Linked DNA regions of Homo sapiens. The protein of the gene in region 2 purifies or fractionates together with the protein of the main gene of each other region. This does not show direct contact. Each region holds a gene or a part of one and is shown on either strand. Other genes may lie near its edges.

The links. Proteins that work in one complex are often made in the same cells at the same time.
Region 1: the proteins of BRWD3 (region 2) and ZNF469 purify together in Homo sapiens (affinity purification with mass spectrometry, with the first as the bait; one large-scale study listed by BioGRID). This does not show direct contact.

What each region holds. Positions count from the first base shown.
Region 1 is NC_000016.10:88,424,106-88,427,958, reverse strand, and holds part of ZNF469 (zinc finger protein 469), read right to left. Parts: exon of another isoform or gene 3,153-3,853; 5' UTR 3,088-3,152; exon of another isoform or gene 1,693-3,087; intron 615-1,692; 5' UTR 489-614; coding exon 1-488. UniProt on the Homo sapiens protein: May be involved in transcriptional regulation.
Region 2 is NC_000023.11:80,799,611-80,803,818, reverse strand, and holds part of BRWD3 (bromodomain and WD repeat-containing protein 3), read left to right. Parts: intron 1-4,208. UniProt on the Homo sapiens protein: Plays a role in the regulation of cell morphology and cytoskeletal organization. Required in the control of cell shape.

The DNA.
Region 1 (3,853 bases), on a different chromosome or scaffold from region 2:
CTGAGTGGAGCTCCAGTCCCAGGGCCCTGGGGGGTGTCCACCTCAGGGAGCTGGGCAGCCTCCAGCTGTGGGTTCTCTGGTGTCTCGTCCAGGGTGGGCTTGGTCCTCGAGCTGGCGATGCCCAGAATGTAGCGCTGTGGGGGGCTGCCCTCTGCCCTGCCCGCCAGCCTTGAGGGAGCCTGCAAGGGGCTTCTCCCCGGTGGGGTCTGGGGGCTGCCCCTCTTCCCAGGGGTGCTGCTCGGGGCCTGGCCTCTCAGGGATGGGGGCTTGAGCTCCCCGTCCCTGGCCTGCCTTGGCTGGGCCTCGGGGAGCTCCATGGCCTGGGCCTGGCCGCCAGCCTCCCTGGCACCCTTGGTGGTCCTGGTAGCTGGGGTGTTGTCCTCCAGTGGCGGCTGGGAGGGGTGCCCCGGGCTGCTGGCAACTTGGCGGGGCTGCAGGTCTCCAGTCATGGTGGGGGGCGGCGCTCCTCGGGGGCGCTCCCCAGGCATGGCCCCTCCGTCCTGGCGCTAGGACGACGCAGCTGTCCGAGGGGGGCCCTGGGGAGTGGGCTGGACGGCCATCCTCAGCCCTCGATGGGCCCCAGGGAAGCCTGCGCTCATGGTCCTGAGTGGAGCCTGGAAGGAAAGGTCAGGGGTGAGTGGGGCAGAGGGGCTGGGTGGCCCTCGCCTAGACAGGGAGCTTCTAGGCTCTCCATGCGGGTGTGGCCGGGCCAGAAGCAGAAGAGGCTGCGTGCAGCCATCACAGAAGCTCCGCGCTTAGAAGGGATGCTCGGCTCAGCCCCTACCTAGAAGCAGGAAGGGAGAGGGCATCCCGCCAGATGGAACAGGGACCCTTCCCTGTCTTAGGGAGAAGAGGGGCGGTGGAGCGCAGAGATTGAGTGGAGGGGGAGGGAGGGGGAGCTTTCTGGGGTGTGAGGAGGCCGCTTACAGGCTCAGAGCAGTCCTCGGCCAGGCTGTGGAGAGGACAGGCACCTGTGTGGGGCACAAGCTCTCAGCCTGCAGGAACTGCCCCAGGGCAGGGTCCTGGCAGCGTCCAGGAGGGCCCAGGTGGATGCTTACACCTGCCATGGGGAGGGCCTTGAGGCAGGAGGCTGCGTTGCAGGACATAGGGGACTGAGGCAGCAGAGGCTCAACCTGAACCTCTCAGGGCCTGGGCGGCTGGTTCCAAGCGGGGACTCCCCTGCCGTCAGCCAGGGTCTCCCTGCCACCAGGCCTTACAGGGTAACCTCCAGATCCTGCCGTCAGCCAGGGTCTCCCTGCCACCAGGCCTTACAGGGTAACCTCCAGATCCTGCCGTCAGCCAGGGTCTCCCTGCCACCAGGCCTTACAGGGTAACCTCCAGATCCTGCTCCAGGAAGCCCCCAGCCTCCAGACGGTGCCGGCTCCCATTCTGGCACATGCCAGATGTAGCAGGAGCCGCTTGCCCAGAGGAGCCTGGCCCCTTGCTCACCCAGGGCTGGCTTCACACTCATCATGTCTGTTCTCATGTCATGACATACGGGACTGTCCTCTGTGCGGACAGGACTCAGACCCGAGCCATTGGCTGTGGCCACGAGGTGCGCAGGCCGCTCCGTGTGGGGGCCCCTTCTGACTTGCCCAGCAGGGACCGGGCGTCCTTTACACAGCAGAGTGAGGCAGGGCTCAGCCCTTGCAGGCATTGTCCTTGCCACTGACCCCTGGGTCCTCATGGCAGGCCCAGAGAGGCGGATGACTTGGCCAGGGTCACACAGCCAGCAGCAGAGCAGCTGGGAGCTGAAGGGACAGGCCTCAGGCCTGGAGCACTCTCAGAGACCCTGCTGCCTCTGTGGAGGCGGGGGCTGCCTCCTGAGGTCACAGGACCCTCCCACCGGCCTGAGCTGGTGGTGTCTCATGCCCCTCCCGGAGTTCCCGCACTACAGCCGCCTGGGGACTCCTAACGCAGAGGCTGGCAGGCCCTCTGTCCCCAGCACGAGGTTGGTACCTGTACTTCCGGCTGGCTCTTCCTGCTGTGCCCAGGGACTGCCTGCACCGGGGAGGAGGGTCCTGCCCAATTTGGGCCAAGGTCTCCAGGGTGGGCGAGGTCCCAGCCTGCAAACTCCACATCACACCACCAAAAAGAGTCATGCCAGCTGGGGGGCCCGGGTGCCCCTTCCTCCTCTGCCCCCACCACTGAGGTACCTCCTGTCCCATGACCCCGGGAGGAGGGCCCCTTTCCCTCTTCTGGGATCCACTGCCAGGGGGCAAAGGCCTGGGAGTCCTTGGGGCCAGGATTCACAGGTGAGGTTTGTTGAGTGAATAAATGATGCTGGGCGTCTGAGCACTTTCCTGAACTGCCTCCCTTGTGCTCACGGTGGCTCAGAGGTGATCTGTGATTGTCGCCCTGAATTTATGGGTGAGGAATCCAGGCACAGAGAGGTGGGGAACCCGCTCAAGGCCTCAGCCAGTGTAGGCGAGGTCCTCCTGGGAGGGCTGGCTCCTAGCCCTGCACATCTCCTGCCCTGCACATCTCCTGCCCTGCACATCTCCTGCCCTGCACTGGGCTTAGCCATGTCCCACATGGCCCAGACACCCACTGGGGCCAGGCTGCAGGGTTGGGGGTAGGAACAGCAACAGCCAGGCCCCACATGAAGCCCAGTCCCACATGTCAGACCCCCCTACCCATGGCCAGAGTCCTCCAGGAGGTGATGGAGGAGGAGGGGGCTCAGAGTGGGGACCTCAGCCCAGATGGAGCATCATAAAGGCCTCCTGGAGGAGGTGGCCTTTACGGAGTCCTGGATGGTGGGGAGGAGTGTTGAGAACACAGCTGTGCCCAGGGGCTTTGTCAAGGGAAGGAGCTGGTCTGATTTATCAAGGGAAGGAGTGAGGCCTGCTGGCTCAGCGGCTGCCATGAGGAACATCAGGTGACACGCCCGCCTGCTGGCTCAGAGCTGTGGCTGGAAGCCCTGCCCGGCGGGCCCCAGGAGTCGGCTCTCGGGAGGCAGTAGGCAGGCCCGGTTACTGTCCTGAGAGGGAGAGGAAGGCCGGGCGGGTGGGGGCGGAGGGGGCCTCAGGACCATCAAGACCAGAGCATCTGTGGCCAGCCTCGGTGCAGGCTGCTGCCTGTACATACCTGGGGAGTCGGGGGCCCCTCAGCTGGGTCGCCGCACAACTTCCTGAGGAATGAGAATTTCTTGGCTGCAAAGAAAATGGAAAGCATGTCAGGGCCGATGTGGTGCATGGCTCTGGACCAAGAGCCCGAGGAGAAGCCAGGTGGGAGGGAGCGGCTCCTGGGCAGAGCCGGCTGTGGCCTCAGGGCACCGGGAAGCCACCAAGAGCCACCGGGAGATGGGTGAGCTCCCCTCAGAGGCCAGCGGGCAGCTCAGCTGGCCCGGGGGACCCTGAAGGGTTTAGGGGTCACCTGGCTGCCTCAGCTGCAGCTTTGACGGCTATCTTAAATCTCTTTTTGTTGGGTCTTTATGTACGCATAGATTGTGTGTACATGCAGCTCCGAAGCTCCAGATTATTACGAGTTGCAGTGAGAACGCTGCCCCTCCCATCCCTGCCAGGATCCCTCCCCAGTCCCGCTGGGGAGACTAGAGGAGCTTCTGGTGTTTCCTCCCAGAGTCCCTGGATGCAAACACCAGCACACAGGAACACACACTGCCTTTCCTCCTTCCTTCAACAGAAGATCGTCGGCTACGCTCACTGTTCTGCACCTGACCTTTTTTTCATGTAACAACATATCCTGTAGATAATCCCACAACATTCCGTGAAGAGGTTTCTCACTCTCTGTCCACTCGTCCTCGCATCCAGGCTGCAGAGCACCCAGACCTGTCTGGATGGACACTGGGCTGCTGCCTGCATTCGGCCCTTAGAAACAATACAGCAATGGTCAC
Region 2 (4,208 bases):
AATGATCTTTGAGTGCTGGTAGCATAGTTATTGCATCTCTAAGTGTGGAAGCAGTTTAAGCATGTTTGATTTATTAACTGCCATGTGGACATAGCCATAGTTAGGAAGAACAGGATGCATCATGGGATATCAAAAAGCATGCTCTGCTCAACCCCAGTGCAGTGTATTGTGCATATAATGCTAACTGATAGGTATTATGACAGAGAGAGGTCAATATCTGGAAATCGGTATTCCTGACTACTCCTGACTACTGACTTGCTTGAGCCACCACGCGCTCTCTGAAATATATTGGCTTTAGCGATTTGTCTAGATTGATCCTTGGCATTTTTTTTTCCACAGATGGGCTCTAAGGAACGTACTTTCAATGATTTAAAATCCTTTTGGAGATTTATCATTAATCTTAGGATAACTGGTATCTCAGTACAAATGAGATACTGTGAAAGTGAAGAGAGCTGGTGTTAGGGACTAATACTTTGGATTCAGTGAACTTGCCTTAATGAAATTTTGTCCTGAGCATCTTTGTCACATTTGAATATTAGTTTTAGTTCCTGTGTTTTAGTTTTTGTTTTACTACTGATGTTGATTACTGATTGATTAATAAACACTTTCCTTTTGGTAGGCAGCAAAATGGTATTCTAAAAAGGTAGTTTAGTGTTTGTGTCATAATTTAGAGATGCCCTTGCTTGACATTTCTTTTTTTTTTTTTTTTTTTTTTTTGAGATGGAGTCTTGCGCTGTCGCCCAGGCTGGAAGGCAGTGGCGCAATCTCGGCTCACTGCAAGCTCCGCCTCCCGGGTTCACGCCATTCTCCTGCCTCAGCCTCCTGAGTAGCTGGGACTACAGGCGCCCGCTACGCCCGGCTAATTTTTTGTATTTTTAGCAGAGACGGGGTTTCTCCGTGTTAGCCAGGATGGTCTCGATCTCCTGACCTCGTGATCTGCCTGCCTCGGCCTCCCAAAGTGCTGAGATTACAGGCGTGAGCCACCGCACCTGGCCTGCTTGACATTTCTTACATGGGATTTTGTGAGTAGTAGAAAAGACCCTAATATTTAGTATGGAATATAGCCTTTACTTGTTGAGTGACCCTAGGGAAATTACTTAAGCTCTCAGAGATTGACTTTCCTCAATTATAAAATGAAAATTTCCCATTTATTGTGGGGAACAAGTGAGTTAAATGTGAAAGAATGCATTTTGTTAATTGTAAAATGCTGTGCAAATGAATTGTTCGCTACATTTTAAAATTAGGATAGAGAGACCGAATAGCCAGCATGGAAATCTGGAGAACTATGACCCCAGATGTTATATTTTCTTAGTCGATGAGATATCATCCCCTAATTTTCTTAATTTTTAATTTTTTTTTTTTTTTTTTTTTTTTTTAAGATGAGAGTCTTGCTCTGTCGCCCAGGCTGGAGTGCAGTGGTGCGATCTTGGCTCACTGCAACCTCCGCCTCCCAGGTACAAGTGATTCTCCTTCCTCAGCCTCCCAAGTAGCTGGGATTATAGGCGTGCGCCACCAGACCTGGGTAATTTTTGTATTTTCAGTAGAGGTGGAGTTTCACCGTGTTGGCCAAGGCTAGTCTTGAACTCCTGACCTCCAGTGATCCGCCCACCTCAACCTCCTAAAGTGTTGGGATTACAGGCGTGAGCCACCATTCCTGGCCCTTAATATTTTTATAAAGTAAGGGGCATATAAAACAGTACTATAAAAAAAGAATATTTAAAATGTTAGTGTCAGAATTGAACTCAGAATGAGTGAGCTGTTTCTGTGTTAACACAAACATGAATGTATGTCAAAAGATATTTAGTGTAATATGCATTTTTTATGAATGCCAGTGTAACACTGGTGTAGTATTCACTTTTTTTTTTAAACAAATGGGAATTTTATTGTGAGTCTTTCATATGTCTTATTGCAGGGATTCTCAACCCTTCTGATTGTATCCTGAATTTATTTTCTATATATTATTGAGATTTATTTACTTATTTATTTGAGACAGAGTTTTGCTCTGTGACCCAGGCTGGAGTGAAGTGGCACTCACTGCAACCTCCACTTCCCGGGCTCAAGCCATTCTCCTGCCCTAGCTTCCAGAGTAGCTGGGATTACAGGCATGCACCACCATGCCCACGTAATTTTTTGTATTTTTAGTAGACGTGGGGTTTCACCATGTTGGTCAGGCTGGTCTTGAATTCCTGACCTCAAGTGATCAGCCCACCTACGCCTCCCAAAATGTTGGGATTACAGGTGTGAGCCACCACACCTGGCCTAATTTCTCGTATTTTAAGTTACCCTGTTTAAAATGTTTTCTCGTCCGGGCGCGGTTGCTCACGCCTGTAATCCCAGCACTTTGGGAGGCCTAGGTGGGTGGATCATGAGGTCAGGAGTTCAAGACCAGCCTGGCCAAGATGGTGAAACCCTGTCTCTACTAAAAATACAAAAAATTAGGCGCGGTGGCAGGCGCCTGTAATCCCAGCTACTCCAGAGGCTGAGGCAGGAGAATCCATTGAATTTGGAGGGCGGAGGTTGCAGTGAGCCCAGATCTCGCCCACTGCCCTCCAGCCTGGGTGACAGAGTGAGACTCCATCTCAAAAAAAAAAAAAAAAAAAAAAAGATGTTTTCTCATGCCCCTTAGTATCCGCCATTGTGTCTTATAGTTAGCTGGGTCTCAATTATTTGTGGTTTTCTTAACTTTTTTTAGAAGCATGATATATATAGATATATATATTTGGTTTATTTTATCTGCTAGTTGGTACTGGGTTCTTTTGTTGGACTTTTCTCTACTGAGCACCTACTAGAATGTGGGTGGGTCCCCTGTCCTTGTCTTAATTTCATCTGCCCTCAGGTTATAGTGCTTTTCAGTGCTTTCTTGAGGCAGTGTAAGCCAGAGAATACTTGACCCTAGGAGGGTCGCTTCTGGTGGTCTCTTTCTTGAGGAAATCTTAAAACTAATAAAAAGAAAAAGAAATGCTATGCATAATGATTAGCATTTTCAAAGGTGAGTGATAGGAAGTTTTAACATTTTGTAAGAGCAACTAGGGAAAGGCCTGCCTGCTGTCTTTTTTTTCTTTTTTTTCCCCTGCCCGGTTTTTCACTTCTCTTTCAAATTCAGCAACCATTAAAACACAGCATTTGATTTAGGTTATTGTAGACATCAAAAAGAGAAAACCCAGTTAATTTTTTATGTTTTCTTTTATGTTCAAAGAGAAAAACCAGTTAATTTATGTTTTCTTCCAGTCTTGTTTTTTTTTTTGTACAAGTATTTGTATTTGTATTTTTTTTTTTTTTGAGACAGCATCTCACTCTGTTACCCAGGCTGGAGTGCAGTGGCTCGATCATGGCTCACTGCAGCCTCCACCTCCCGGGCTCAATCAATCCTCCCACCTCAGCCTCTGATAGCTGGGACTACAGGCATGCACCGTCATGTCTGGCTAATAATTTTACTTTTTATAGAGATGGGATCTCACTTTTTTTTGCCCAGGCTGGTCTTGATTTCTTGGGCTCAAGCGATCCTCCTAGGATTACAGACCTAAGCCACTGTACCCTGGGGTTTTTCATTAAAAAAAAAAAAAAAAGAAGCCCTTCTTAATAAGGAGATATTATGCACTAGTTACCATGCAGAATTGTATTGGGTTGGGGTGCCTTTCTCTTTGCTTGGAATGCCCTTCTTTCCCTTTCTGTCTTGTGAACTTTTCTTATATTTTTCAAGGGTGAAACTGGACATGAACCCTTAAACCTCTAGGCAAAATTAGGTGTACCTTACTTCTTTGCTTCCTTAGTTCTCTACTGACCTCTGGGCACTTGCAGCTTAATTTGTTTCTATTTACTATTTTGTTTGCTCCTCTAAGACTATGGGTTCCCTTAGGGCAGCAATTTAATCTTCTTTCCATTGCTTTCCTATACTTTAAATGGCTGAATGAATGCATGAGTGGATGACTGTCTTTGTCCTAACCGAACTTTAGTAGATAGTTATCATTACTGTTTTACAGATGAGGAAGTTCAGGCTCAGAGAGGCTAAGAAACTTTGCCTAAGGTCATATAAGTAGTAACTGGGATGCTGCAAAGATTCAAATCAGTCTCTCTACTGGATCATACTGCCAAAAAAGAGTAACAGCTAGTAAATTTTAGTTCCAGGCTCTCAGACTTCAAAGTACCCTGTTATCTCTGTAGTACACTTACATTGATATAAAGCTTTGCTGTATTTTTCAAAATCCATT